Linked DNA regions of Homo sapiens: region 1 is linked to region 2. The links come from fine-mapping of genetic effects on gene expression. Tissue or cell type: whole blood. Region 2 holds a variant in brackets; the other region holds the start of a gene. All regions are shown on one strand. Distances are from middle to middle.

Region 1 (8,137 bases), 20 kb after region 2:
CTCCACTCCTGAGTACACCCCCTGTGTGGCCCTGCGTGGCTTGTGGTGTCCTTTCCCATTGAGTATGTTGTAACTAATAAACTGCGGTAAATCTCACCTGCCCAGTGTCAGGTGTTGTGTTTGGCCACTGCCATCACATGAGAGTGGGAACCCCTCCGTCAGCTATGGGGCAAAGAAGACGTGATTAAAACAAATATTTAAAAGACTAATGATATCCTATGCTGGTGAGGCTGTAGGGAAACAGGAACTCACATCTCACGTGGCTTTTTTTTTTTTTTTTTTTTTTTTGAGATGGCAACTCACTCTGTAGCCCAGGCTGCATTGTGCAGTGGCATGATGACTGTTCACTGCAGTCACGACCTCCCAAGTTCAGGTGATCCTCCCGCTTCAGCCTCCTGAGTCGCTGGGATTACAGGCACTTGCCACCCCACCCAGCTAATTTTTGTATTTTTAGTAGAGATGAGGCTTCACCATATTGGCCAGGCTGGTCTCAAACTCCTGACTTCAGGTGATCTACCCACCTCAGCCTCCCAAAGTGCTGGGATTAAGGCATGAGCCACCGTGCCTGGCCGGTAATACATAATTCTTAATTTCAACTGTTCCTGGTTAATTAGGAGGGTTCTTTTTGGGTATTCATTTTTGACTGATTTTTTTGGCATCTATTATGATAATTGTTTTTTTTTCTCAGTTGACAAACTCATGGCTTATTAATTTCATACAGAATAATCTACAGTTTTATTTTCTTGAATTGTATGTAGGATTTTCCACCCCTGGAACTGATGACTGATGAGTATGGTTTTCAGTTTTCCTTTCTTCCTGTGCTATTATTAGGAATTGGTATAAGGGGAATTGTGGCTTCATAAAATGAAATAGACAGCATTCTATCTTTTCTGGGTTCTGATGCAGATTAGTAGGGTGAAAATTATCTATTCAGTGAGTTTGAGAGATTTCTTCCATTAAACTGTCTGAGGCCAGAGCCTTTTTAAAATTTCATTTATTTATTTTTGAGACAAGGTCTTGCTCTGCTGCCCAGACTAGAGTGCAGTAGCACGATCACGGCCCACTTGCAGCCTGAACCTCCCAGGCCCAAGCCATCATCCAACCTCAGCCTCCTGAGTAGCTGAGATCACAGGTGTGCACCACTGTGCCTAGCTAATTTTTTAATTTTTTTTTTTTTTTTTTTTTGAGACAGGGTCTCACTCTGTCGCCCAGGCTGGAGTGCAACAGCGCAATCTCAGCTCACTGCAACTTCCACCTCCTGGGTTCAAGTGATTCTCTTGCCTCAGCTTCCCGAGTAGCTGGGACTACAGGCATTCACCACCACAACTGGCTAATTTTTGTATTTTTTGGTAAAGATGGGGTTTCACTAATGTTGGCCAGGCTGGTCTCAAACTCCTGACTTCAGGTGATCCACCTGCCTTGGTCTCCCAAAGTGCTGGGATTACAGGTGTAAGCCACCATGCCCAGCCCAATTTTTAAATTTTTTTGTAGAGACAGGGTCTCCCTATGTTGTCCAGGCTGGTCTTGAACTCCTGGGCTCAAGCCATCCTCCTGCCTCGGCCTCCTAAAGTGTTGAGATTATAGGCGTGAGCAACGATGCCGGCCACCAGAACCTTTTTTGGACATATTTCTTGGATGATGTTTTTAATATCTTTGTTATCCTTGTAATTTTATTTCCCAGAAAATGAGCCCCTTTATCAAGGTTTTCAGGGCCGGGCACGGTGGCTCAGTTCTGTAATCCCAGCACTTTGGAAGGTGGAGGAGGGTGGATCACTTGAGGCCAGGAATTCGAGACCAGCCTGGCCAACATGGCGAAACACTGTCTCTACTAAAAATACAAAAAATTAGCTGGGTGTAATGGTGCACGCCTGTAATGCCAGCTACTGAGACTGAGGCAAAAGAAGCACTTAAACCCGGGAGGCGGAGGTTGCAGGGAGCCAAGATCATGCCACTGCACTCCAGCCTGGGTGACAGAGCAAGACTCTCTCAAAAAAAAACAACTTGTGTGATCATTAATCAGCAGGTGACAAATCATCTTAAGCAACAACAAAACAAAACAAAACAAAGTATTGATTAGTTCACTGAACTGATGAACCTAGATACAAATAGTCTAATCTCAGCACTTTGGGAGGCCGAGGCGGGCGGATCTCAAGGTCAGGAGTTCGAGACCAGCCTGACCAACATAATGAAACCCCGTCTCTACTAAAAATACAAAAATTAGCCCGGCGTGGTGGTGGCACATGCCTGTAATCCCAGCTACTCAGGAGGCTGAGGCAGGAGAATTGCTTGAACCCAGGAGGCGAACGTTGCAGTGGGCTGAGATTGCACCATTGCATTCCAGAGGGAGACTCCATTTCAGAAAAAAAAAAAAAAAAAAAAAAAAAAAAAGTCTAGTTCATAGTTGCTCTGAAAGAAAGGAAGGGGATTGCATTAGTTATTCATTCAATAGTTACACACTATGCTAGAGTTTGTGTAAATTTTAAGTGAGACTCTGTCTCAAAAAAACAAAAAAGTTTTCATATGCATTGGACCAGAGTCAGATATAGATAGTATTCTCTTATTTTCCTGGTGTTCTTTTAAAGATGCAAAACCACATTAGTCTATGAAATAGGAATGGAGACTACAAAGAGAGATTAAGTTGAGATCAAGACAGAGGTGGAATGGAAATTGGCTGAAAGAAAAATAAAACAAGCAGAATCAAATGTCTTATTGGAGAAAATAAACAGTACTCTTGGCTCTGAAGAAAATTAAATCCGTAATGGTGAAGAAAAACTTGATATAGTCTCCCAGGGTGCAGAGAAAACAAACAGATTTATTTGACATTGGTGATCCAATGTGATAGTTTTAGAGGAGAGGAAAGAAAAAAACCCAAATCTTTTCACAGAATGGACAGGAAGAAAACTTTTCTAAGCTACAAAGAAGACCTCTTTTGTTTCTGGAAAATTAATAGATAAGGCCCATATTGATTTATACTGGCAAAATGTTTGACTTTTGAGGGTAAAGAAAAACCCTTGCAAGCACCAAGCAAACTGCTGACCTTAAACAGACAAACCCAGCTTTGCATTTTCAGTGCCAGAAGACAATGAAATAAAGACAAGAGTTTTGAGGGGGAAAGCTTGAGACTCAAGAATCCTATAAACAGGAAATCATTATAAAGGCATTCTCACCTAAGGCAAAGGCTTAGGAAATACAACATTCCAGAGTCCTCCCTGAAATCACCAGTCATGTGAGAGATGGGTCCAAATGAGGAATAGAAAAATTAGAGCACAAAAAACCGGCAGTAACATTGAAACCAATTAAACAGAGTTGGCAAAAGCCAAAAACAAGGATTGAAAAAGAATGTTGTGGCTTAAAAAAAAAGTGTAAACAAAAGTTAGGTCTGTCGTCCTGATTAAGTGGACAAATATAAGTAGTGAGGGCGGCAGGTAGGAGGCAGAAAAGCACACAAAATTTCTCATGGGGGAATATAAAAACGAATTATTTGTCACTGACTTTACTAATGTGTGAAATGTAAACTATTTTCATTTGATAAATCTAAAGGCAGCCGCGAGAAGAATTAAAAATACTTTCTGCCTTGAAAATCACGATAGAAGATAAAAGCAAATGTGGGAAAATTCAGAAAACAGGAATAAATAAAAACTATAGAATACGAAGTCGTAAGACCAAACACAACACCTATAAACAGCAGAGACGTAATGCGTTAAATCCCAGCCAGAGCAGAGGCGCTGCAGTTCTTAGGGCAGACCCTGGTGCCTCCAGGCTTTTGCTAGTGCTAAACTCTCGGCTAGGCTTGCCTCCCTACCCTATTCAAGGCTGAGGCCTCAATTCAAGGCCGACTCCCTCCTCCCGGCAGTCCTCCCGGGCCGCCCTAGGCTGAGTGAGCACTCCCCACAGTGAACGCTGCCCGCGCGGGCGAGGCCGGCGCTCCGGGTCCGGTACGAAGTCCCACCTCACTCCCTCTCACCCCGGGTTACAGCGTGTGGTCTGGGGCCACGCGTTACGCCAGGCGCGGGGCACAGGGTGAAAGCGTTCAATCCTGCTGGAGTGTAATGTGTATTTTTTCCCCGTCGCACCTTCCAGACGGTGATCCAGTGTGAGCAGCAAGTTTCAAATCGTCTCCGTTTGGTCACGAACGGAGTTTACTGCCCCTCGACGCCTCCCGCACGACAGCCCGTGGTCCTCGCGCCCGGGCGGGTCGTTGCTCGGCCGGGCGGATCCACCCGCGACGGCTCGTCCCGACCCCTCCCTAGCGGACTTGCAAGGTCTCAGGGCGTCCGCTGGGAGGCCGCGTCCCGAAGAGCTGGCGCGGGAGAGGAATGGGGCTCGGGGCTCCGAGTCGGGAGCCCCTTCCCCCAAGCAAGAGGGGCTCCTCCTCCTCTTCCTAGACGTGGGATTCAGGGAGGGCGCGGTTCCATTGGATTTGTTGCAGAGGAACGACTGGGCCTGAGCCCAAGCCCAAGGGCCTGGGGGGTAACGAGCGATGAGCAGAGGGGCTCGCGGCGGACTTGCTGCGCCCTAGAGAGGGTGAGGCTGAGGGGTCCCACGCGCGGGCGGGGCGCAGCGACGAAGGGGTTAAGGCGCCTCACCCCGCCCCAGCCCGGGCATTGGCTGCCCTGGGGGGCGTGGCCGGAGGGCGGGCTCGCGTTTGCCGCAGCCGCTGGTGGGCGGGGCTCGGGCGGGGAGCAGGAGGGGCGCGGAGCGGAGCCGGGCCCGCGCAGCGCGCCCCGCCGGGCGTGCTTCGGGCTGCGCCAGCAAGCGGGGCCGGTGGCGCCCGTGTCGGAGACCCCGCGCCGGACCCTGAGGCAGCGAGTAAGTGAGGCAGGCCCATCGTGGCATCCCTCCCGGCTCCGACCTGCCGCCGTGCCTGCTGCACTGCGCGGCATGTCTGACCTGACCCGGACTGGGTAGGGGGCGCGTCCCGCTGCTAGGGTCCCAAGGGGGAGGGGAGCGGAGAGGAGGCGGATGATGTCATGGATGCTTCGCCCGGCCTGGGGGGAGGTGGCGGCCAGAGGGGGTGCGGCTCGGATTATGTCACCTCTTCCCTCTGCGCCCCGCCCCCCGGGGCCACACGCGTTGGTGGGGAGCCTGGGGAGGTGCGGGCGGGGTTTCCCCCATCGCAGGGACTCCCAGGTCCTGTGGCCTGTGGCTGGGGTCTCTATCAGTTGGCTCTGCGGGCCGTGGGCTGCTGGTGAATGGCGACCCCCCCTCCCACCCCCAGCAGAAGCTCGTGTGTGCGCGCGTGTGTGTGCTCGGGGTGGAGGGGGCGCTCTCGGCCCCCTCAGTCCTGAAACACTGGCTTCATCAGAGCCAGTAGCTAGGTGATGGGCCCATTCCGCTGCCAGTGCTTAGGCCACCGAGGGAAGACGGATCTCCCCTCACTCATCCCAACCAAGAAGTTCTGGATATCTCTGCACCCCAAAAGCCCTGCAGTGCCCCCAGATCCCTTTCCTCCCTCAGTCCTGCTTCCTGGAAACCCCTCCTGCTCTCCCTGCCCGGATTCACTGCCTCTTTGCATTGCCCATAACTAGCATTCCCACAGGCATTTGCCCTGCATTTCCTTGGTGCAGGGCCCAGAGACCCCCAGGACTCTGCCCTCTGTGCTCCTGGGAAACCTATAGGCCAGCCCTGGGGAGGCCTCAGAGTGAAATCTCCCTGGGGTGTCCTCAGCCAAGTGCTCCAAGATGCCCCCTCTGGGGGGTGGAGATCAGGGATGCTGTCCTGAGGCCAGCCTTTGAACTGGTCTAGAAGCATGTAGGATGGGCACAGAGAGCTGGCAAGAGCTTGTGTGTGAAGTAGAGAGGGGCTCAGGTCAGGGTAGATAGAGGAGGGGCATCAGGAGAGTCCTTGGGGACCCTGCTGCAAGCTCTGCTCTGGTTCTGGGGACCAAGAGGAATACCAGGCATTTCACCCATCATACATTTACTTCTTAAAATGCCTGCAATGTAGGTGTGAGAACCCGAGGTGAAATAACCTGCATGAGGTTGCACCCCTAATCAGTCAAGCTGGGATTTACACTTGGAGCTGATGCTGCCAGAACTCTGTCTACTGCACTTGGTCTTGCTCATGGAAGGATTTGGACAGAGCAGGGGCAAGATCAGCTTTGCCCTTTAGAAGGAATCCCCTGGCAGCTGCCTGGGGGAGGGAGTGCAGGAGAAGAAAGTCCATTGAGGAGCCCCCAGCAGGGGTGCTGGATGGAGGGGCTGGCTAGAGATTTTTAGGAGATAGAATGGGCTGGGGTTGGGGCCTCTGAGACCCCAAGTGTTCCTAGCTTTGGGAGAGACACAGGTTGAGGGGTGGGTTGGAGGTACCTGTACATGTAACTGTCAGGTAGAGTCCGTTTGGCCCCCTCATGACGCTAATACTGTGTATAATGCCCCAGGCACTGAGGGCTGAGGTGACAGAGATCGAGGCAGTCAGGCAACAGGCTGTCATCTCAGGGTGGTGCACTGATGCCAGGAGGCTGCCTTTGCAGACCATGCTCAGTTACCTGGACTAGTTCAGGACCGTGACCTTTCCTCTCAGTTCAGTTCCTGCTTACCAGGGAAACATCCCCTTCCTTGTCCTGCCGGTGTCCTGCTGGGATTTTTTTTTTTTTTTTTTTGAGGGGGTATCTCACTCCGTTGCCCAGGCTGCTGGAGTGCAGTGGCGCAATATCACTGCAACCTCCACCTCCTGGGTTCAAGCGATTCTCATGCCTCAGCCTCCCGAGTAGCTGGGATTACAGACACGCACCACGACGCCCGGCTATCTGCTGGGATTTTGTGGAAAGAAGCTGCAGCAGCCAAAGCTTGGGAGAGACAAGGGGCAGGGCATGCTTGCAAGGGGTTAACCATGACAGGTTACAATTACGACAAGAAGCTCTTTAGGCAGTGAGGCTCCAGAGAGAGCTTCTGTGGGTTGATAGTCAAGCATTCCCCAGGTAGAGCACGGAGAAAGGAGGCTCAGGACAATGGTCCTGGGACCTTGTTTCCATCCACGACTCGAGGCATCTGAGACTTGCTAGGGACTACACACACTCTAGAGAAACAGTAGGGGAGAGTGGCCTATGACCAGCCCCAACCTATGCTCAGGTTGTCCTTTCCCGGATCTCAGAGAAGGTGTACTACATGTTTGTATTGCCCCTTATAGTTTACAAAGCACCTTCCCAAACATTATACCCTGTCACTCAAGGTCAACATGATCACTGTTGAGGTTTATTCCTGCCCAGATCCAGGTATCTGGTGCAGTCACCTTGCTATCCCCTTGCCTAGATCTTTCATCTCACTATTGGCAACTTCCCTCAGCATATTAACACACAGGTTTCTACCATGGTTAATTTTAAAATTAAAAAAGCCCTTGAATCTCAAACCTCCTTAAATAACTGTCTTCTCTTTTAGCAGGAACTCTGCCATGTCTTTCTCTGCACTCCTCTAGCCTTGTGGACTGCCTTTGTTTTGTACCACTTTTTTTGTTCTGTTTTGTTTATTTGTTTGAGAGGGAGTCTTGCTCTGTCACCTATGCTGGAGTGCAGTGGTGCGATCTTGGCTCACTGCAACCTCCACCTCCTGGGTTCAAGCCATTCTCCCGCCTCAGCCTCCTGAGTAGCTGGGATTACAGGCATGCACCACCACACCCAGCTAATTTTTTTGTATTTTTAGTAGAGGCAGGGTTTCGCCCTGTTGGTCAGGCTGGTCTCGAACTCCTGATCTTAGGGGATCCACCTGTCTTGGACCTCCCTAAGTGCTAGGATTACAAGCGTAAGCCACCGCGCCAACCTGTTTTTTTTTTTTTTTTTTTTGATGTAGTCTCGCTCTGTCTTCCAGGCTGGAGTGCAGTGGCATGATCTCGGCTTACTGCAACTTCTGCCTCCCGGGTTCCAGTGATTCTCCCACCTCAGCCTCCTGAGTAGGGGATTACAGGCGCGCACCACCACGCCCAGCTAATTTTTTGTATTTTTAGTAGAGACGGGGTTTCACCACGTTGGCCAGGCTGGTCTCGAACTCCTGACCTCAAGTGATTTGCCTGCCTTGGCCTCCCAAAGTGCTGGCATTACAGGTGTGAGCCACCGCATCCGGCACTTGTACCACTTTTCTGAAACCATTCTGACATAGACATTGGTGATGTCTCGAGACCAGCTCCTAAATCCGCAGCACACTCT
Region 2 (8,142 bases):
CGCGATAGCTCACTGCAACCTCCACCTTCAGATTTCAAATGATTCTCCTGCTTCAGCCTCCCAAGCAGCTAGGATGACAGACGTGCACCACCACACCTGGCTAATTTTTGTATTTTTGGTAGAGGCGGGGTTTCACCGTATTGGCCAGGCTGGTCTTGAACTCTTGACTTCAGGTGATCCACCCACCTCAGCCTCCCAAAGTGCTGGGATTACATGTGTGAGCCACTGTGTCCAGCCTTAACAATTTTGAGGAGTCCTGGGCAAGTAGTTTGTAGAAGGTCCCTTAATTTGAGTTTGGTTGATGTTTTTCTCATGGTTAGACTGGGGTTATGGATCTGACTGAAGAAGACAATAAGTGAAGTTCCATCTTCAATGCAACATACCAAATATGCAAGTTATCCGCTTCACTTGTCCCTAATGTTGTTAACCTTGGTCGCCTGGCTGCGGTTTTGTTTGCCAGCTTTCTCCACTGTAATGTGACTGTTTTTTTCCCCTCTTCCCGTATTTCTTTGGAAAGAAGTCACTGTGCACAGCCCACACTTAAGGGTTGGGGAGTTAGAGTTCTTACATAAATTATATGGAAATCTCTTACAGGAGATATGTCTCTCCTTCCCTATTCATTAAATATTCATGCAGTCTTTTTTTTTTTTTTTTTTTTTTCTGAGATGGAGTCTCACTCTGTCATCCAGGCTGGAGTCCAGTGGCGCAATCTGGGCTCACTGCAACCTCCGCTTCCCAGGTTCAAGCGATTCTGCTGCCTCAGCCTCTCGAGTAGCTGGGATTACAGGCACCCGCCACCACACCCAGCTAATTTTTGTATTTTTAGTAGAGACGAGGTTTCACCATGTTGGCCAGGATGGTCTTGAACTCCTGACCTCAGGTGATCCGCCTGCCTCAGCCTCCCAAAGTGGTGGGATTACCAGCGTGAGCCACCGTGCCCGACCAGCCATTTTTTTTATATTTGTATAGACTCATGAGTATTTATTTTGTACTTTGTGTTATAATCCAGTAACGTTATTTATTACGTTGTTGAGATTGTTCCAGCTTTGACCATTGGGAGCCCTTTCAGTTGGCTCCTGTGTACCTTTAACACACACTCGTTTTGTTTTTTGAGCACTTAGTTTCTGGCACTGCAAGATGCCCCAGACTCATCTTGTATATTACTTGCCTCAGCTTTAGCTTTCTGATTCTTGTTTTTGTTTTTGAGATGGAGTCTCGCTCTGTCCCCCAGGCTGGAGTGCAGTGGCACAGTCTCGGCTCACTGCAAGCTCTGCCTCCCAGGTTCACGCCATTCTCCTGCCTCAGCCTCCCGAGTAGCTGGGACTACAGGCGCCCACCACCACGCCCGGCTAATTTTTTTTTTGTATTTTTAGTGGAGACAGGGTTTCACCGTGTTAGCCAGGATGGTCTCGATCTCCTGACCTCGTGATCCGCCCGCCTTGGCCTCCCAAAGTGCTGGGATTACAGGCGTGAGCCACCACGCCCGGCTAGCTTTCCATTTAAAAATTTTTCTGAGTGCTCTGGAAAATGTGTTGGGTTGAGGGAGGCTGTTTTACCAGGCAGTAGTGGTGATGGAGCAACATAGACAGACCAGGGAGTTTTCTGGAAGTTAGAGAAAGAAGGGGTCAATAGGACCTCATTTCTGACCAGTTGGCTGTGTTAATTCACAGAGCCAGGGACCTAGGAGGAGGTCTAAACGTAGAAGAGTAGGTCCCAGGGTCTGTCTGCTGCCTGTGAGATGGCCCAGTAGCTGTGTCACATGGACCGTTGTGTGTTTGGGAGAAGAGATTCGGGTGGGGCTACAAGTGTGGTAGTCACTGGCAAGGAAGGGGTTGATGCTTTGGGCATGGGCGAGGTGGCCCAGAGAATGTGGAGGAGAGAGAAGAGGCAGGGCTGAATGATGAAGGAGGCGGGAAGAATGGCCCAAGGAGCAGGAGGAAATCCAGGAGAGGGTGGGATCTGGAAGCCAAGGGAGGAAAGAAGGATCACTGAGAGGACAGACATATGAGACCTGAAGGTTGTACCTTGAGTTTGGTGAGTGGAGGGCATGGGTGAGACTGTGGCAGGAGTTGTTTCATAGAACTGGGAACACAGAAGCCAGACTGGAGTGGGCTGACTGGGTGAGTGGGTGGTGAGGAAATGCAGGGTTCACATTTGCTTATGAGGTGTGGACATGACGGGGTATGCTTGGTGAGTTACACAAGGAGAGGATGGGGCAGGTGATTGGAGGGTATTGTAGAGTGGGGTCATGGCAGGGTTTTCAACAGATTTTTGCTAAGATCCCCTGAGCACGGAGGGCGGGAGAAGGGGCTGAGCAGCATTTGTCCAGGTGATGATGAAACCGATGACAAGAGGGGCCTCGGCCCATGGTTCAGCTTGGGGGAATGGAGAAATGGGGGTCCTGAAGGAGCTCTGTCTCTGAGAAAAGGCTGGGCTATATGCTCTGGTGTCCTGCAGGGGTAGCAGCAACCAGAACAGGTGCCTGCCCTGTTCTGCCCCCGATACCTGACTTTTGCCTCCTATGTCCACAGGAGGAGGAGGAGAGGAAGGCCCGCGAGGAGCAGGCCCAGCGGGAGCATGAGGAGTACCTGAAACTGAAGGAGGCCTTTGTGGTGGAGGAGGAAGGCGTAGGAGAGACCATGACTGAGGAACAGGTGGGCCTGCTGCCCCTGGGAAGCCCCTCTCTGCACCCATCAGTGCAGCCTGTGCCAGACGCAAGGCTAGCCACCCCATCCCAGACGCCCCTGGCCAGGCAGTGAGAGGTGGGTGGGCATCAGTACCAGCAGGCTTTAGTGGCCAGAGGCCTTGTCCTCAGCAGAGGCTGGTGCCTCCGAAACTCTCACCCTGGAAGGCTCTGCTGCTTGTGTAGGCAAGCGGTATGTGCAGGTGGTTGGGCGGGCCAAAGGCAGGCTGCAGGCAGGTGGCCCTCAAGTGAGCAGGTGGTACTTGGGTGAATGGGTACAGAACCCTGTGGGCTTGCTAGGGGGTGCTCACCCTGATTTCTCTGCTTCTCTAGTCCCAGAGCTTCCTGACAGAGTTCATCAACTACATCAAGGTAAGAAGCCACTGAACAGAGCCTGAGTGTCAGCTCCCTGCCTGGCATGTGCAGGTTGGATGCCTCCAGCGGGGGCTGCAGGCAGGGCATTCAGGCTCATGCAGGAGTGGACAGGGGGGCCCAGAGGGGCAGAGCCGCAGGGTCCTGGCCAGGAGAGTTTCTCTCCCTCCAACCCCGAAGGTGGAGAAGGACCTGGGTCTGTGTGGGAGGCGCAAGCCTTTGATCACTTCCTCACACTCAGTTTGACAGTTTCCCTGCTCTTCAGACCCCACGCTCAGTGAGTCAGTGTGTTTTCAAGTCTCTTCACATGTGTTTTCTGTCAGTTCTGTCACACTGAGGCTCCACTGAGTTGAAACAAGCATCCTCTGCCATGTGCTCCTGACTGGGAACTTGGGTCTTTCAGGGGGAACAGGATGGTGTTTCCTTTGGAGTTTAGGGTGGGGCGGCAGTGTGTCCCCTTCTGTCCGCAGCCACTGCGCAGGCCGCCTCGATGCTGCTCCAGGTTGCATAAGCACATCCTACTTTGCTTTGCTGCTAAGCAACTTCTCTCCCACGAAGGATGCCATGAGGGGAGAGGTTTT[C/G]AAGTGCAACTCAGAGGTGCAGAGGCGGCTGAGGGAAGGAGTGCAGAGGGAGCGGGGGCGGTGGTGGGGGTGCTACCAGGGGCTGCCAAGGACCCAGGGCTTGCATAATCCTCCCGCCACCTCTCCTGAAAGAGAGCAGGGTTTAGACGCCTGCCAGCAGCGAGGGGCTGGGCTCACAGCCTTGAGTCTGGGGTTCTTAAGTGGGGGAAATGCTGGCAGCTTTGAGAGGGTCCTGTCTGTTCAGGCTGTGTGCACTCCCCTCTCATGGAGCCCTCTCTCTACCCTGGCACACTTGATTAGGGGCTGTGGCCGGGCAGGTTATTTCTCACACTTGCCTGCTGCTGTTTGGAACTTGTCCCCACCTACCCAGTAGGCAGTAAGATGGTCCTGAAGCCCCTCCCCAGGAAGCCTTCCCAGGTGGAATTAGAGGAGGGGGTCAGCTTCAACATCCCCCTTTACTCTGCAGAAACCAGAAGAAAGGTCCCCAGTTCTAGCCCTCACTTTTGGTGGCTCCCTGGAGGTAACTATTCTCTGGGAGTTCTCCAAACTCTTTTGGAGCTTAGAAGTTTTTCCAGCTTGTCCGGGCATGGTGGCTCACGCCTGCAATCCCAGCACTTTGAGAGGCCGAGGCGGGCAGATCACTTGAGGTCAGGAGTTTGAGACTAGCCTGGGCAACATGCTGAAACCCCATCTCTGCTAAAAATACAAAAATTAGCCAGGCATGGTGGTGCACACCTGTAGTCCCAGCTACTCAGGAGGCTGAGGCAGGAGAATCACTTGAACCCAGGAGGTGGAGGTTGCAGTGAGGCAAGATGGTGCCACTGCACTCCAGCCTGGGCGACAGAGTGAGACTCTGTCTCAAAAAAAAAAGAAAAAAAGTTTTTCCAGCCTGTGCTGGCTAATTCTTCTAGAGCTGCTGTCTTGCAAGGAAAAGGAGGACTTCTGAAATTCAGTCTGTCTGCTTTCCTCCTTGCTCCAAGGGGATAGACCTTTTTTGCCTTAAGATTTCAGAACTGGAGGAACATGCCTGCACCCAGCATCGTTTATGAGAGGTGTAGGGTTCACTCGATCTTGTTCCATTCTCCTGTCTGACCATGGCTGGGCTCAGGCGATCTTCCTGCCTCTGCCTCCTGAGTAGCTGAGATTGCAGGTGGGTGCCACCACACCTAGCTTGTTTTATCAAACGTGTTTTGGCCCCAGCAGCACCTCAGGCCAGGTCATCAGGGAGCACCTGGGGTGACTTCATGTTCTCGCACCACACTGTCACTGAGAGCCCGCTGCCTGATCCCTGTTTTGTAGGTAGAGACCAGCTGACCACGTCACTTTGTCCTTGCCCATCCTGACCCAGCTGCCTCTCGCTTGCCTTCTTGCTTGTACATACGGCTTTGGCATTTCAAACAAGTCACATGCTATCTGCAGTCAGGGAGGTGTCACCATGTCAGTCCTCCCCCAGCTCATTTGCGGTGGAGGATTCACAGAAATGCAAAAGAACTGCCTTTTCTCAAGTCCTGTGCTGTGTGTTGGGGTAGTGGGGGCAGGTGCCTGTGTGGACACAGCGGTGGACCCTTCGCTGCGCCCTTGGGAACTCAGGTTTCTACTGAGGGTATGAAGAAGCACTTGGAGCACAGAACGTGGCTGTGCTGGAAAGCACTCAGCGGTATTAGTGACAGTGATTTCAAGGGTGGGCTCAGTGCCTCAGATGGTATAAAGAGGATGGATAAAAAGTGTGGGTGTGTCAGGTTGTGGGGGACCAGGCCAGTGGGGCGGCCAGCGAAGGCAAGGCAGGAGTGGGCCCCCACAGCCTCTACTGAGAGACCTTGGCTTGCTCGGGCTTTTATCTGCTCTCCCTCTTGTCCATGTACTCACCTGTCTCACCAGCCGGACTGCGAGCTCCAGGGCGGGGACTATGGCTTGTTCAGCATGTGTCCCTCCTACCTTCTCAGGGCCTTGTTCTAGTAGGTCCTCAGCAAGCATAAGTCCTGGTGACAGTTATTTAAAATAGCTTTTGGTGACTCTCACCGCCTCCTTCCTCCCTATGGTGCGTCCCCTTGAACTTGTCCATGATGTTAAAAAGAGATGGCTGGATGCAGAGGATGGTGGCTGCTGTGCTCTGATTACCACTCGTGTGTCTCGGAGTCCAGGACAGGGCCCATGAGGCAGGTGGTTGTTTTGGGTAGATTCCTTCCTCGCAAGAAGGGGAATGAGAGGGTTTATGATTGTGCGGGTCTCTGTCAATGGGTGATAGTGAGTGTGTGTGTGTGTGTGTGTGTGTGTGTCAGGGGAGCAAGGCTGTCCTACAGGAGTGTGTACAGTGTTTTTCCAGCCACCGAGAACAGATCAGATCAGAATGCAAACCTGGAGGGTGCCCATGCTTAGAGGGATTTGCCCAAGCTCAGCCTCTCTTTCTTTTCCTCCTTCTTTTTGTAGCAGTCCAAGGTTGTGCTCTTGGAAGACCTGGCTTCCCAGGTGGGCCTACGCACTCAGGTAAGCCCTGGAACGTGGCCTGCTGTGTGCAGTGTGGCCAGGGGTCTGTGGCTAGCAGAGAGGACCTGCCCTAAAGATAGAGTCTTGATGCACCGTCTACCTTGTCCCCAACCAAGAGTGAGTAGTGCACAGAAGTCTCCTGGCACCCTGGGAATCCTGCATTTTTAATGGACGAACAGGCAGGAAAGAAAAAAAAAACCCAAACCCCATCACTCTGCCAGCCCCTGTGACCAAAGCAGCCCAAATCAGTTACCTTGACAACTCTCATGCACAGACTGCACCAGCCTGTGTTGCAAACATCACTGCCCCGCTTCTAACAGGAAGAGATACTCTTTTGGGGGTCTTGCAGGGCCCAGGACCAGAGCCCCTTCTACCCAGGGCCCTTCCAAAGGCAAAGCACAGAGTCACATTTGGGCGTGGCATGAGAGGGAAATAAAGAGATTTGGCTGTAGTGGGAGGGAGGTTTCAGTGCTTTTTCTGGGGACATTGGTGCCTATCTCTATTCTGAGAGTTGTTCTCCTCATAGGACACCATAAATCGCATCCAGGACCTGCTGGCTGAGGGGACTATAACAGGTGAGATGATGAGAGCCAATCACTGCAGTCCTGGCCTTGGAGAGTGTCTAGCCACAGGGGCTGCAGGGATGTGCTGCAGAGGCAGGATGACCACCCAAGATGGGGGGAGGGGTGTGCAAGGAGGGGCACTGAGTAGCTGGATGCAGTTACAAGGAGGACATGCCAGGGCCTGGAGGTGGCAGCAGTGGGAGAGGACAGGCAGGGCAGCCTGATTCGACTCTCCTAGCAGGACTGGATGCAGCCAGGAAAGTCCAGGCAGGCAGGAGGCCGGAAGGGCCCTGAGCCAGCTGTGAAGGAGTAGGTGGGCATTCTCAGGCCAGATGGGGAACGCCCAGGAGGCCTCAGCCCCACAACCTGCATGTCCCCACAGGTGTGATTGACGACCGGGGCAAGTTCATCTACATAACCCCAGAGGAACTGGCCGCCGTGGCCAACTTCATCCGACAGCGGGGCCGGGTGTCCATCGCCGAGCTTGCCCAAGCCAGCAACTCCCTCATCGCCTGGGGCCGGGAGTCCCCTGCCCAAGCCCCAGCCTGACCCCAGTCCTTCCCTCTTGGACTCAGAGTTGGTGTGGCCTACCTGGCTATACATCTTCATCCCTCCCCACCATCCTGGGGAAGTGATGGTGTGGCCAGGCAGTTATAGATTAAAGGCCTGTGAGTACTGCTGAGCTTGGTGTGGCTTGGTGTGGCAGAAGGCCTGGCCTAGGATCCTAGATAAGCAGGTGAAATTTAGGCTTCAGAATATATCCGAGAGGTGGGGAGGGTCCCTTGGAAGCTGGTGAAGTCCTGTTCTTATTATGAATCCATTCATTCAAGAAAATAGCCTGTTGCACATTTACTCTGTTTCTTTGTGCCCTGCAAGCCCTGCCCCCAAGACCTAGATAAGATCTTTCTCTTCTTTTGCCCCCACTCAAATTAGAAGTGGGGAGCCTCTTGGGCCACATCTCTGTTAACTGGGGAGGGGAGGTCTCATGGGTCTTTTTTAACTGATCAGGAGCCCTAAGTAGGGCTGAGAGCCAGCGGGGAGAAGAATTAATGAGAAGCATCAAGGATAGAGTCCTAGGGAGCATCAGCCTTTAAGAAGGAGGGCGGGGGGTCAGTGAAGGAGAGAGCCATTTGCAGGGCAGGTAGAAGGAAGGAGAGGACCTGCTTGAGCTGGCTATAATTGTGCAGTGGAGGGAGGGACATTGCTCATGTGGGAAATCACATGAATTCAGCTCTACATCCTTGACAAAAAGTTTAAATGGTGTGGGTGATTCCACCCACTGGTGGATGTGAGAACCATATGCTCAGAAGTGGGTGGGATGGGAGGGAGGTGTGTACCTCCTGGAGGGTCGGTCACTCTGGTTCCTGTTGGCTGTTCATGGCGTGAGCATCCTGCTGTGCTGAGGGTGAGGCACATGTTTAAATGTGTATTTATGCAAAGTGGTCCCTAAACAGAAGCC

Evidence for each region. PIP is the estimated chance that this variant, and not a neighbour inherited with it, causes the effect.
Region 1: it holds the start of LZTS3, and the variant in region 2 is fine-mapped to the expression of LZTS3 in whole blood (TOPMed, PIP above 0.99).

What each region holds. Positions count from the first base shown.
Region 1 is chr20:3,170,127-3,178,263 of GRCh38, reverse strand. It overlaps LZTS3 (leucine zipper tumor suppressor family member 3), which reads left to right and starts at 4,715. Exons shown (of 5, transcript NM_001365618.1): 1 at 4,715-4,809. It overlaps LOC107985414 (a long non-coding RNA gene), which reads right to left and starts at 4,574. Exons shown (of 2, transcript XR_001754477.2): 1 at 4,074-4,574; 2 at 1-162. RefSeq lists a silencer at 4,492-4,831.
Region 2 is chr20:3,189,743-3,197,884 of GRCh38, reverse strand. It overlaps DDRGK1 (DDRGK domain containing 1), which reads left to right. Exons shown (of 9, transcript NM_023935.3): 5 at 2,532-2,654; 6 at 3,017-3,055; 7 at 6,064-6,120; 8 at 6,647-6,695; 9 at 7,066-7,535. The coding sequence ends at 7,232. Among named protein-coding and RNA genes, the nearest start is that of DDRGK1, 11 kb to the left of the region's middle. The variant C/G (reference allele first, on the strand shown) is at 3,637.